Homo sapiens: one gene and its partners. The protein of the gene in region 2 purifies or fractionates together with the protein of the main gene of each other region. This does not show direct contact. Each region holds a gene or a part of one and is shown on either strand. Other genes may lie near its edges.

Region 1 (3,650 bases), on a different chromosome or scaffold from region 2:
TCTTAGGAAAAAGGAGAGCCTGGGCCGGGTGGGGTGGCTCACGCCTGTAGTCCCAGCACTTGGGGAGGCCGAGGCGGAGGATCACAAGGTCAGGAGATTGAGACCAGCCTGGCCAACATAGTGAAACCCCGTCTCTCCTAAAAACACAAAAATCAGCTGGGTGTGGTGGCGCGCGCAGCTGTAATCCCAGCTACTCAGGAGGCTGAAGCAGGAGAATCGCTTGAACCCCGGAGGCGGGGATTGCAGTGAGCCAGGATGGCGCCACTGCACTCCAGCTTGGTGACAGCGAGACTCCGTCTTAAAAAAAAAAAAAAAAGGGAGAGCCTGTGTCTTTTTCTTTATATTAAATCTTACTGGGACTCTCTCATTTTAATATTAATTACTTTACTATGACCAGTGAAAAGTAGAAGTGAAATATGTCCCTGAATCCAGATACTTGTAATACATCGTAACAGAAATCATTGTTGTGGGTTGTGGTAACCCTCACCACACACACACACCCCCCACACCCCACACCCCCACCAGGCTCAAGCCATCCTCCCACCTCAGCCTCCTGAGCAGCTGGGACTACAGGCATGCACCACCACACCTGGCTAATTTTTGCACCTTTTTTTTTTATGTAGAGACAGGGTTTTGCCATGTTGCCCAGGCTGGTCTCGAACTCCTGAGCTCGAGCTGTTTGCCCACCTCGGCCTCCCAAAGTGCTGGGGTGACAGATACAAGCCACTGAGTCCAGCCCAGTTGTAGTATCAAGCATCACATAGTGTGTTAAATGACCATGACTTTCACAAGCTTTTTGACTTTATTAAAAATATGTTACACTAATCTCTTTTGCTGGTTAAAAGCTCATATGAACTAGTAAGTGTAGAAAAGTGACGGTAGTACATTCCCCTTTGAAAACAACTGTTTAATCTCTTAAGGTTATGATTCTGATATTTTATATGCCTATATTTCATTCAAAGTATATTATTGGTGCCTTTTATTTAAATCAGGCAGTGTAGTAATTGCTCAAGAATACAGTCATGAAAAGACTTACTTCCCATGTCTTTGTGGAGCCTATGGTAGGGTAGTTAAGTAGATAAAAACATCTTAGGATGTGGAGATGTTATTGCAAGGAATTGTTTAGTAAATAGTTTCAAATATGGCTGAAAATAAGAGATTAAAATTAAAGTTAATTGAGTTCAATAACTCAAATAGTTTATTGAGGCATTACTATGGGTTTTGAGGCAGTTGTTTTAGGGAGTTATGGCAACAGAAGCTATATTAGTACATCAGTAAGAGGAAAGAAGGACATCAATATTTAATGTACAGTCCCCTCCGTATATGCAGGGGATTGGTTACAAATCCATCTATACCAGAATCCATGCATACTCAAGTCCTCTGGAATCCACATATAGGAAAACTCAGTCCTGACTATACATGGGTTCCTCATCCTTCAAATACTGTTTTTAATCCACATTTGGTTGGTGGCAAAAAAAAAAAAAAAAAAAAAAAAAAAAAAAAAAAAACACAGTGTGTAGGTGGAACCATGCCGTTAAAGCTCATGTTATTCAAGGGTCACTTGTGTGTGCCTACACTAAGGCACCGAGCTAGACTCTATATACTGCATTTAATCTTTGTCATTATTTGGTGATAGAGGTGTTACTATCCTTGACTGCTGAAGTAACAAGGTCAGAGAGGTTAGATAATACTCTTAAGTTACCTGGCTTATAAATGAGAGTTTAACACAAGTCTTTAAGATGTCCATACTCTTTCTTGTACCTTGAAAAGAAAAGTAGGCAGAAAATTTAGACTATATTTGAAATGTTGCACAGAGAGAAGTTGAATGGTCACTAAAAGTTAAGTGATCAAGACTAAGCAAAGGATTGCAACTTATTTTTAATTTTTAAAATAGAAGAGAATGGGCCGGTTGTGGTGGTTAATGCCTATAATCCCAACTCTGGGAGGCCAAGGTGGGCTGGTGGCTTGAGCCCAGGAGTTCAAGACCATCCTGGGCAACATGGCAAAACCCCATCGCTTAAAAGATAGAGGAGAATGAGTTTTAATGCAGTAGGGAGGATGACAACATCTAAAGGTTAATTGTGCTTCTTAGTCCTGGAAGAGCCAGGTCAGGACACAATGGATGGGGGCTCGGTGCAGGGAGTAGAGAAACAGATATGTCAGGGAAAAATGAGAGTAAAAGAGGCAGTTTATACAAATTGTATATATCTGTAAAAGGTCTGCATTGCCTGGAGTTTCCTAAATTGTGGATTAAAGGAGTGGAATTTGTTTCAGAGAAAAATTCGAAATAGGAGATGGCAACACAATAAGTAGTTTCTCTTTATAAAATAGAAATAATAGTGGCATTTACTTTATGGACTTACGAGACCAATTTGTAGTTTATATATAGCGTGATATAAGTATTTGATTTATGATGAGGAAGGTTTAAGCTGCACTAATGAGGAATCAAATAAGAAATACATGCTAAAATGCTATATAATTGTATAAGATGATGCAAATAAGTCATACTTTTATTCTCCTTCATGATCTAGTAGTATTTTTAACCTTGGAGTTGTAAGTACAGTGGGCATAGAAGGACCTATCTGACAGGTTGAGCAAATCATTAAAAGGTGAGGAATTCCAAGTGTTAAAAGGTATTACTAATTTCTAAGGTGTTGAAGGTGTTTGTTCTATGGGCTAAATAATAGCAAATGGAAGGGAATTATCCCCCATTTAATTGTTTAGTCCATATGTCCGAATCTTTTGTCTGATACTAAGCACAAAATTTATAGTCTTTTTACATTTATACACATGTATTGGCTTCCTTTTACACTATTAGGCGGTCAAGAAGCAGATCGAGACGGCGGTCACATTCTAAGTCTAGGAGTCGGCGACGATCCAAAAGCCCAAGGCGGAGAAGATCTCATTCCAGAGAAAGAGGTAGAAGGTCAAGGAGCACATCAAAAACAAGGTATAGCATTGGGTGAGAAAGCAAATTTTAGGGTTCCCAGTACCCCTAGTACTGTGCTACTTAGTAACAAAAGAGGTGGTTGGGGTGCGGGGCAGAGAAATAGGGCTAGACAGGGGAAGAAACTGTCAATATTTGAGTTTGAGGAGGCTGACGTTTGCTTTCTGGTGCTTCCTTGTAAACTGAAACTTCAGCTTACAGCTGAGGGCCTAAGTAAAATTTCTTAGTAGTAGGAATTGTTAGCTGTCCTGCTACCTTCTTTCATAAGAAATACCGTAACGTTTTATTTCCATCTAAAAATATATTCAAAAACCAGTCTTTTCGTGTAGAACCAAACACTTTTAAATTAGTATGCCCCCAGTCATTTATAGTTGTGAGGCATACAATTTCACAGCACTTAATTTTTTTAGCAACTGCTTTTTATCTCTTGCTAAAATATTTATCTTAATTTTCTAGAAGCAACTCTATATTTGGCATTATTTTGTTCATTTATATATTTAGTTAAATCATGTCATTAAAGTAAGTACAGCTGGGGACACAACATAACTTACTCTTGGGAAGCATAAAACTCAACTGATGAGAACAGAAGAGTGGGGGTAGCTTTACTATCATTGTTAAACCTGTAATAATGGGGCTTTTAGTCCTTATGTGCTGCAGAGTGAATCAAACAAGGTAGATTAATAGAACAGTTATACAAAGGAAT
Region 2 (3,650 bases):
TTTGAACCCTGGAGGCAGAGGTTGCAGTGAGCTGAGATGGTGCCACTGCATTCCAGCCTGGGCAACAGGGTGAGACTCTGTCTCAATAATAATAATAATGACAATAATTTCTAGGTTTTTAAAGTTCTTTTAATAAATAGCGAGAGCATTGTAATTTATATTTTTTAAGATCTAGTAAGTACCTTCATGTCTCATTCAACATTATTCTACTTTGCTTAGTCCTAGAGCTGTCTGAATTTTTGCTAAATTAGACCTTACAGAAATATGAGATGAGCAAATACCAAATCATTGGAAACTACTATGGGTGGGAGGTAGGGAGACGTGATTTCTCCAGGTTTAAAGATAAATTTATATAGATCCTTTTCACTCCAGATACTTTAACAATAATTTAATATTCATTTTAAAATGTTGACCAGATGTGGTGGCTCACGCCTGTAATCCCAGCACTTTGGGAGGCCGAGGCTGGTGGATCACCTGAGGTCAGGGTTTCAAGACCAGCCTGACCAACGTGGTGAAACCCCATCTCTACAAATACCAAAAATTAGCTGGGCATGGTGGCAGGCACATGTAGTCCTGGCTACGGGGGCGGGGGGAGGGCTGGGGGCGGGGGGCGCGAGGCGGGTGCTGAGACAGGAGAATCACTTGAACCCGGGAGGCAGAGTTTGCGGTGAGCTGAGTTTGTGCCACTGCACTCCAGCCTGGGTGACAGAGACTCTGTCTCCAAAAAAAAAAAAAAAAAAAAAAAAATTGTTAGAGAACCTACTACATGTTAGACTCACAGCTGTTCACTGTTGCAGCCATTAGTTACATGTGGCTATTTAAAATGATATAAATATCTAAATGCTCAGTTTCTCTGTCAAGTAGCTAACTTATATTGGGTAGTGTGGATAAGAACATTTTGTTTTGATTGATTGACAGGGTCTCATTCTGTTGTCCAGGCTGGAGTGCAGATCATAGCTCACCGCAACTTTGAACTCCCTTACTCAAATGATCCTTCCACCTTAGCCTCCTGAGTACCTGGGACAACAATTGTGTACCACCATACCTGGCTATTTTTAAAATTTTATTTTTGTAGAGACAGGGTCTCACTATGTTGCACAGGCTGGTCGCCCAACTCCCAGGATCAATCGATTCTCCCACTCGGCCTCCCAAAGTGCTGGAATTACAGTTGTGAGCCACTGAGCCCGGCCATTTTCTTTAATTCTGAATGAAATAGGGGTTTAAATAGAGATGTATGCTCTGTCAGTTTTTTTTTTGTTTTATTTTGAAACGGAGTTTTGCTCTGTCTTGTGCTCACTGCAGCCTCCGCCTCCTGGGCTTAAGTGATTCTTGTGCATCAGCCTTCCAAATAGCTAGGATTACAGGCATGCACCACCGTGCCTGCCTGAGTTGTATTTTTAGTAGAGATGGGGCTTCACCACGTTGGCCAGGGTGGTCTTGAACTCCTGGCCTCAAGTGATCCCATCTACTTTGGCCTCCCAAAGTGCTGGGATTACAGGCATAAGTCACTGCAGCTGGCCTCTATTAGACTTTTTTTTTTTTCTTGAGACGGAGTCTCTTTCGTCCAGGCTGGAGTGCAGTGGGCGTGATCTCGGCTCACCGCAGCCTCTGCCCTCCGGGTTCAAGCAATTCTCCTGCCTCAGCCTCTCGAGTAGCTGGGATTACAGACGCCTGCCATTGTGCCTAGCTAATTGTTTTGTATTTTTAGTACAGATGGGGTTTCACCATCTTGGCCAGGCTGGTCTTGAACTCCTGACCTCCTGATCCACCTTCCTTGGCCTCCCAAAGTGCTGGGATTACAGGCGTGAGCCACTGCGCCCAGCCTGTAAGACTTTTTAAAAGGATTTTTCTGGCTGCAGGGTTGAAAGTAAAGTGCAGAGTACGGTGAGACCACTTTAGAAGACTTAGAATATTCCAGACAAGAGGAGATGGTGACAGAGACCAGAGTTTGATAGGTTAGATATGGGGTATAAGAAAAAGTGAGGAGTTAAGGGTGGTCTCAAGATGTTGATCTCAAGATGGTCTGGCTAGGTGCGGTGGCTCACGCCTGTAATCAGCACTTTGGTAGGCCGAGATGGACTAATCACTTGATCCTAATAGTTCGAGACTAGCCTGGGCAATATAATGAGACCCTGTCTCTACAAAAAATGCAAAGTTGGGCATGGTGGCACGTGCCTGTGTCCCAGCTACTCAGGAGGCTGAGGCAGGAGGATCGCTTGAGCTGGGGAGGACGAGACTGCAGTGAGCCGTGATAGCACTACTCAGCTCCAACTTGGGCTACAAGAGTGAAACCCTGTCTCAAAAATGTTTATTTTGAGCATATGACGAGATGTGAAAAGCTACAGGGATAATAGGCTTAAGAATGAGAATAAGGGAGTCCTGTGTTAATTTTGAGTGTAGGTATGTTTGAGGTCTATTAAATATCCAGATGAAAAGGTTACCGAAGCAGTTTGATGTACAAGTCAGGAGTTCATAGAAATTAAAACAGGAGATAGAAATTTGGACGCATACAATGTAAGGGTGGCTAGTTTAAGCCGCGCTACCAGATGTCCTTTGTAAGGACTGTAGTGTGGTTGGAAATTAGGTGCTCTCTGCTCTAGGCCACTTCCAACATTTGAAGGTCAGGAGATTAAAAGGAATCGTCTAAGGAGATGAAAGGTAGGAAAACCAAGAGTAGTGCCCTGGAAGTCAATGACGTGTTTCAAGGAGTGAGTTATTTAACTGAGTCAAATGCTGGTTCAGTAAGAGTACTGAGACTGGGTTAATAAGGTCATTGGTGACTTGACAAAGAGCGATTTCCAAGAGTGGTGAGGGTGAAGTGTGATTACGGTGCTTTGAAGAGACAGGGAGAGGAAGCGAAGGCATTCTTAGGGAGTTGCACTTTATGAAGAGCAGAGAAGTGGAGTGGAAGCTTCAAGGTTAGTTGAGAAACTTAGTAACATTATTGTCTGAGTGCCTTTATTTAGTCCTATTTTCACAGCAACCTGTGAGATAGACCTGGCAGTTAAATCATACCAATTTTATAGATGATAAACCCTAAGACATTATTAGTAAGTTAGGTGGTTCCCTGCAGTTTCTCATCAGTGCTTGCTCCTGTCTTTTCAACCAAGACGCTATGACTTTGCTTGGCAGGGTCCCAAGAAATCTAATTCTGGCTGTACCATAATAGATACACCTTTAATTGTTGCCCTTCTCAAAAATGTAGTGAAGATTAGTGTGTATGTGAATGTAATTGTTTATAGAATGCCTGTTGCATCATCTCTTTATTAAGAATAGCAAAATATTCCAAAAAACCTTAGGAAACGGCAATTAAGTCACTTGTTAAGCCGCTTTATCCATAAATATTTTAATTGCAATATAAGGAATAGCTTTTAACAATCAGATATTAAGATAATTTCTGAGTTTGATTTGCATGCCCCAGTTTCAAATCTTTAAGTGAGATACATTGCTAAGAAGAAAATACTTAGCTTTTTGTAGTTACTTTTCTGTTCGTACATGAAAATGTCTTAGGAGGAAAGAAAAAATGAGTATTATTTGGGCAAATATATCTAAGTCATTAGCCTAAATGAGTGCTTCTCAAACTTGAGCATGCATTAGCATTTCCAGAAAGGCTTGATAGTCTAGGCAAAATACTTTGACATCTACTTCAG
Region 3 (3,650 bases), on a different chromosome or scaffold from region 2:
TAAAATTTTTTATAGAGACAAAGTCTCCCTATGTTGCCCAGGCTGTTCTGGGACTCCTGGCCTCAAACAATCCTCCCACCTCAGCCTCCCAGGTGTTGGGATTACAGGGGCAAGCCACAAATGCACTTGCATTGCATTTTGGCCTAGGAGGGCCAGTAGGGCTGTGCTGGTGGCCTGCTCTGACTGTGGAGGGGTCCCTGTTCTGCTTCATGGCCCGCTGGGGGACTGTGGTTGGTTGTAGGGTTGTGGGGAAGGCAAAATGAGGTCATGTCTGTCGAGCTCAATGCAGCGTCTGGCACTCGGTGGGCACCCCGTGGCAATTGTGCATGAGTTTTCGTGCACAGCGTGGCGGGGGCTGGTCGCCTGGGGGTGGGGGCATTGGGGGGGGGTCGCCTACCTGCCATTTGTCATGCGGTCAAACGTGTGCTTTTCCTGAGTGGCCACCTGGGTATCTGCTCCTCCCAGCGACTGCTGCTGCCTCACTGACTTGGCAGTCGCACCCCCTTGAGGTGGCCCACCTGCGGCTGTGGGGTGTGGGCACCTGTCCCTTCTCTCTGTCCTGGCCGTGGGGCTTCCGTGGGCCAGGGGCCTCGGATCTGCCACTCCTGCAGTGGGGTCCCTCTGCTGCCCTGGGGCCCAGCAGCACGTCTGCAGAGCAGGGTTGGCCTCCGGGGCCTCTGATCCTCGTGGCTGGCATGGAGCGGGTGCCCCCTGAGCCTGGAGAGAAGCGTGTGGCCTGTTCCCGGCTGCCGTGCTCCTCCCCAGCTCTGTCTGCCACGTACAGGGCCCTTGAGGCACTTAGAGGGTGACTCTGGCAGGCATGGTCTGTCTGGGAGCCCCAGGTGAGCCCGGGACGGGGAGGCAGGTGTGAGTGCCTCCTGGGCTTCCCCAGCAGGCTCCGCCCCCTCCGTGGCCACCCATGTAATCCGCTGACCGCCTGTCTCTGGTTCAGCTTCCAGGCCGAGCGGCCCGCGTTAAACGTCGTCATCTTCCCTCTGCTCCACGAGGGCCTGACCGACGTCATCCGGGACGTCCCCCTGGTGCACCTGGATGAGATCACCTTATTTAAGAGCAGAGTGGCCGAGGAACCGCCGAACCTGTGGTGGTGAGAGGCGGAGCCGCCGCCCATCGGTCTCAGTCACCTCGAGAAGCTGCAGGAGCCTGGGACGCCAGGGACCCTTGGTTTGTCACAAGAGGAAGGGGGCCTCTCTCCCGGCCAGCCACGCCCCACCTGGCTCCTGGGGCTCCCGGCGTCTCCACGGCTCTCTCATGGGGACTGTTGCTCTGTGAAGTTTAGGTCGAGGGGATGCGTTCTGGGTGACATGAGGGGGCTCGGGGGACGGTCGATGTGGGGGGCTGGCTGAACCAGGCTGACCCTTGGGGCCTGGCTGGGGGGTTTGTATACTGAGCCGCAATCCCTGGGGGCCCTGTCCACGGGCCTGGAGGGCCCGAACCCCCTGCCACTTCCGACCGGGAAGCGTGTCCCTTGGCTGTTGTGTTTGTGGTCACCTGCCACCGGGGCCCCGTGGATGGGCGGCCACATGCTGTCCCCCTGAAGTCCAGTCGGCCGGGCTGGTCACCGTGTATCTGAGTGTCCCCTTGCATGGTCAAGTGTGACATGGGGAAGGGCCTGCCAGTTTAGTGGCTGCAGACTTGGGACTCTCCATCCCATTAGGACACACTTGAGCCCACTCATGTCTCTGGGGCTTTTCTAGCCAGATGATGCCTGTGGCCCCAGAGAGGTCCCCTGAGGTTGGGACTGCTGGTTGGAGCCTCTCCTGTGACTTTTCAGCCCAACCAGCAGGGCCCGTTTCTAACGAGAGAGGCCTCCTCCCCCTCCCACCCACCCCACGGCCTTCAGCTTCCCTGGGAAGGTCCATGCGCGTTCCTGGGGAAATCGATACACATTCGGCTTTGTTAGAATAACGCGAAACATTAAAACCCAGAAAGGATTCTTAAGGCTGGAGTAGCAATCACATGACCCCATTTCAAATGACTTCATTTAAGACTTTAAAAATACTCAGCTGGGCGCGATGGCTCACGCCTGTAATCCCGGCACTTTGGGAGGCTGAGGTGGGTGGATCACGAGGTCAGGAGTTCAAGACCAGCCTGGCCAACATGGTGAAACCCCATCTCTACTAAAAATACAAAAATTAGCTGGGCGTGGTGGCGGGCGCCTGTAATCCTAGCTACTCAGGAGGCTGAGGCAGGAGAATCGTTTGAACCTGGGAGGCGGAGGTTGCAGTGAGCCGAGATCACACCATTGCACTCCAGCCTGGACAACAGGGTGAGACTCCGCCTCAAAAAAAAAAAAAAAAAAAAAAAAAAAAAAAAATATATATATATATATATATATTCAACACACTTTGGGAGGATCACTTGAGCCCAGGAGTTTGAGATCAGCCTGGGCAACACAGGGATACCCCATCTCTGAAAAAGAAAGAGAAAAAAACAAAGTTATTCCAAAAATGAGGACATCCTCCTGGCATCTGAGTCCTCACCCCATGTGCCACGGTGGCCGCTTCTGCCGTCCTCCACCTCCAGGCGCTCCTAGAGCTGTCCCTGGGCCAGTGGCTTCCAAAGGGGGCTGTAGTTGGGCCCTGCTAGCCTGGACCGCCGCCCTGGCCGCTCTTGGTGAAGGGCCCCTTGTCCAGCCCGCCTTCCTCCTCCTGGGTTTCCGTGTGACAGATGCCCCGTCCTGTGGGGTGGTGTCTCACATTTGCTTTGCTGTTAAAAAATGGGGTACACCATCCCCAGGCCTCCAATCACCGGCCCTGCCCCTGAGTGGGGATGGTTTTCAGCAGCTCCTTGCTCTGGGGGCCAAGCTCCTTGTCCAGGAGGCCTTTGGAGAACTGGGGTCAGAGCTGTGGGGAGGTACAGCCCTCCTGTGCAGGCTGCCTCCCAGCTCTCCACCTGGCAGTCTTGACCCCACCCTGGCGCCTCTGCTCACTGGCACAGGTGGATCTGGGGTTTGAGGTCTCCTCCCACTTCACCCTGACTTTCTTGTATGTATGGGGTCATCGCCTCCTCTCTGAAGCCCACGGGTCCTCTCCCAGCCCCAGGCTGCACCCAGTGCAGAACCTTTGCCTCCTGGCCAGAGGGACCCTTCTGCAGGCTGATTCCAGCAGTGCCCGATGGTGGGACCCACACCAGACCAAGCCTTCGCCTCCCAGAGGCCTCCTGGCCCTCCTGTCATGGCCTGTGAGAGCCACACCCCTAGGCCCCGTCTCCTAGTCTGCAGGCCGCAGGACCAGCTGCCCACGGCCCCAGGGGGCAGGGGCTGTAGATGAGGGTCTCAGAGGTGGTGGGAGCACCCCCCCCACCCACAGTTCCTGGGCATTTCTTTAGAGCTTTAAAATGGCACCTGGAGACCACCAGGCGCGGCGATCAGATCGGGTGGTGTGGTGCCTCCTGGGACTGACCACTTCTTGCTCTCCGACCAGGCAGGGGCGAGTGGCCTGGGAGGTTCCCGGACCCTCAGGGGGCCTGTGTCTCTGGGCACCGCAGCTCCGCCCCACTCCTTCCTCCAGAACATTCCCCACTCGGGCTAGAGAATTGCGTCTGCTCCAGGAATGCATCCTAGCGTGTGTACGATCGCGCCTGGGTGTCCTGTTCTCATGAGCAAGCGGTTTTAACCAGCAGCATAATTT

What was found.
Region 1: the proteins of ZNF207 (region 2) and SRSF11 purify together in Homo sapiens (affinity purification with mass spectrometry, with the first as the bait; one study listed by BioGRID). This does not show direct contact.
Region 3: the proteins of ZNF207 (region 2) and FBXL18 fractionate together in Homo sapiens (co-fractionation; one large-scale study listed by BioGRID). This does not show direct contact.

Annotation. Positions count from the first base shown.
Region 1 is NC_000001.11:70,241,866-70,245,515, forward strand, and holds part of SRSF11 (serine/arginine-rich splicing factor 11), read left to right. Parts: intron 1-2,818; coding exon 2,819-2,950; intron 2,951-3,650. UniProt on the Homo sapiens protein: May function in pre-mRNA splicing.
Region 2 is NC_000017.11:32,353,090-32,356,739, forward strand, and holds part of ZNF207 (BUB3-interacting and GLEBS motif-containing protein ZNF207), read left to right. Parts: intron 1-3,650. UniProt on the Homo sapiens protein: Kinetochore- and microtubule-binding protein that plays a key role in spindle assembly. ZNF207/BuGZ is mainly composed of disordered low-complexity regions and undergoes phase transition or coacervation to form temperature-dependent liquid droplets.
Region 3 is NC_000007.14:5,479,234-5,482,883, reverse strand, and holds part of FBXL18 (F-box/LRR-repeat protein 18), read left to right. Parts: intron 1-952; coding exon 953-1,109; 3' UTR 1,110-3,650. UniProt on the Homo sapiens protein: Substrate-recognition component of the SCF (SKP1-CUL1-F-box protein)-type E3 ubiquitin ligase complex.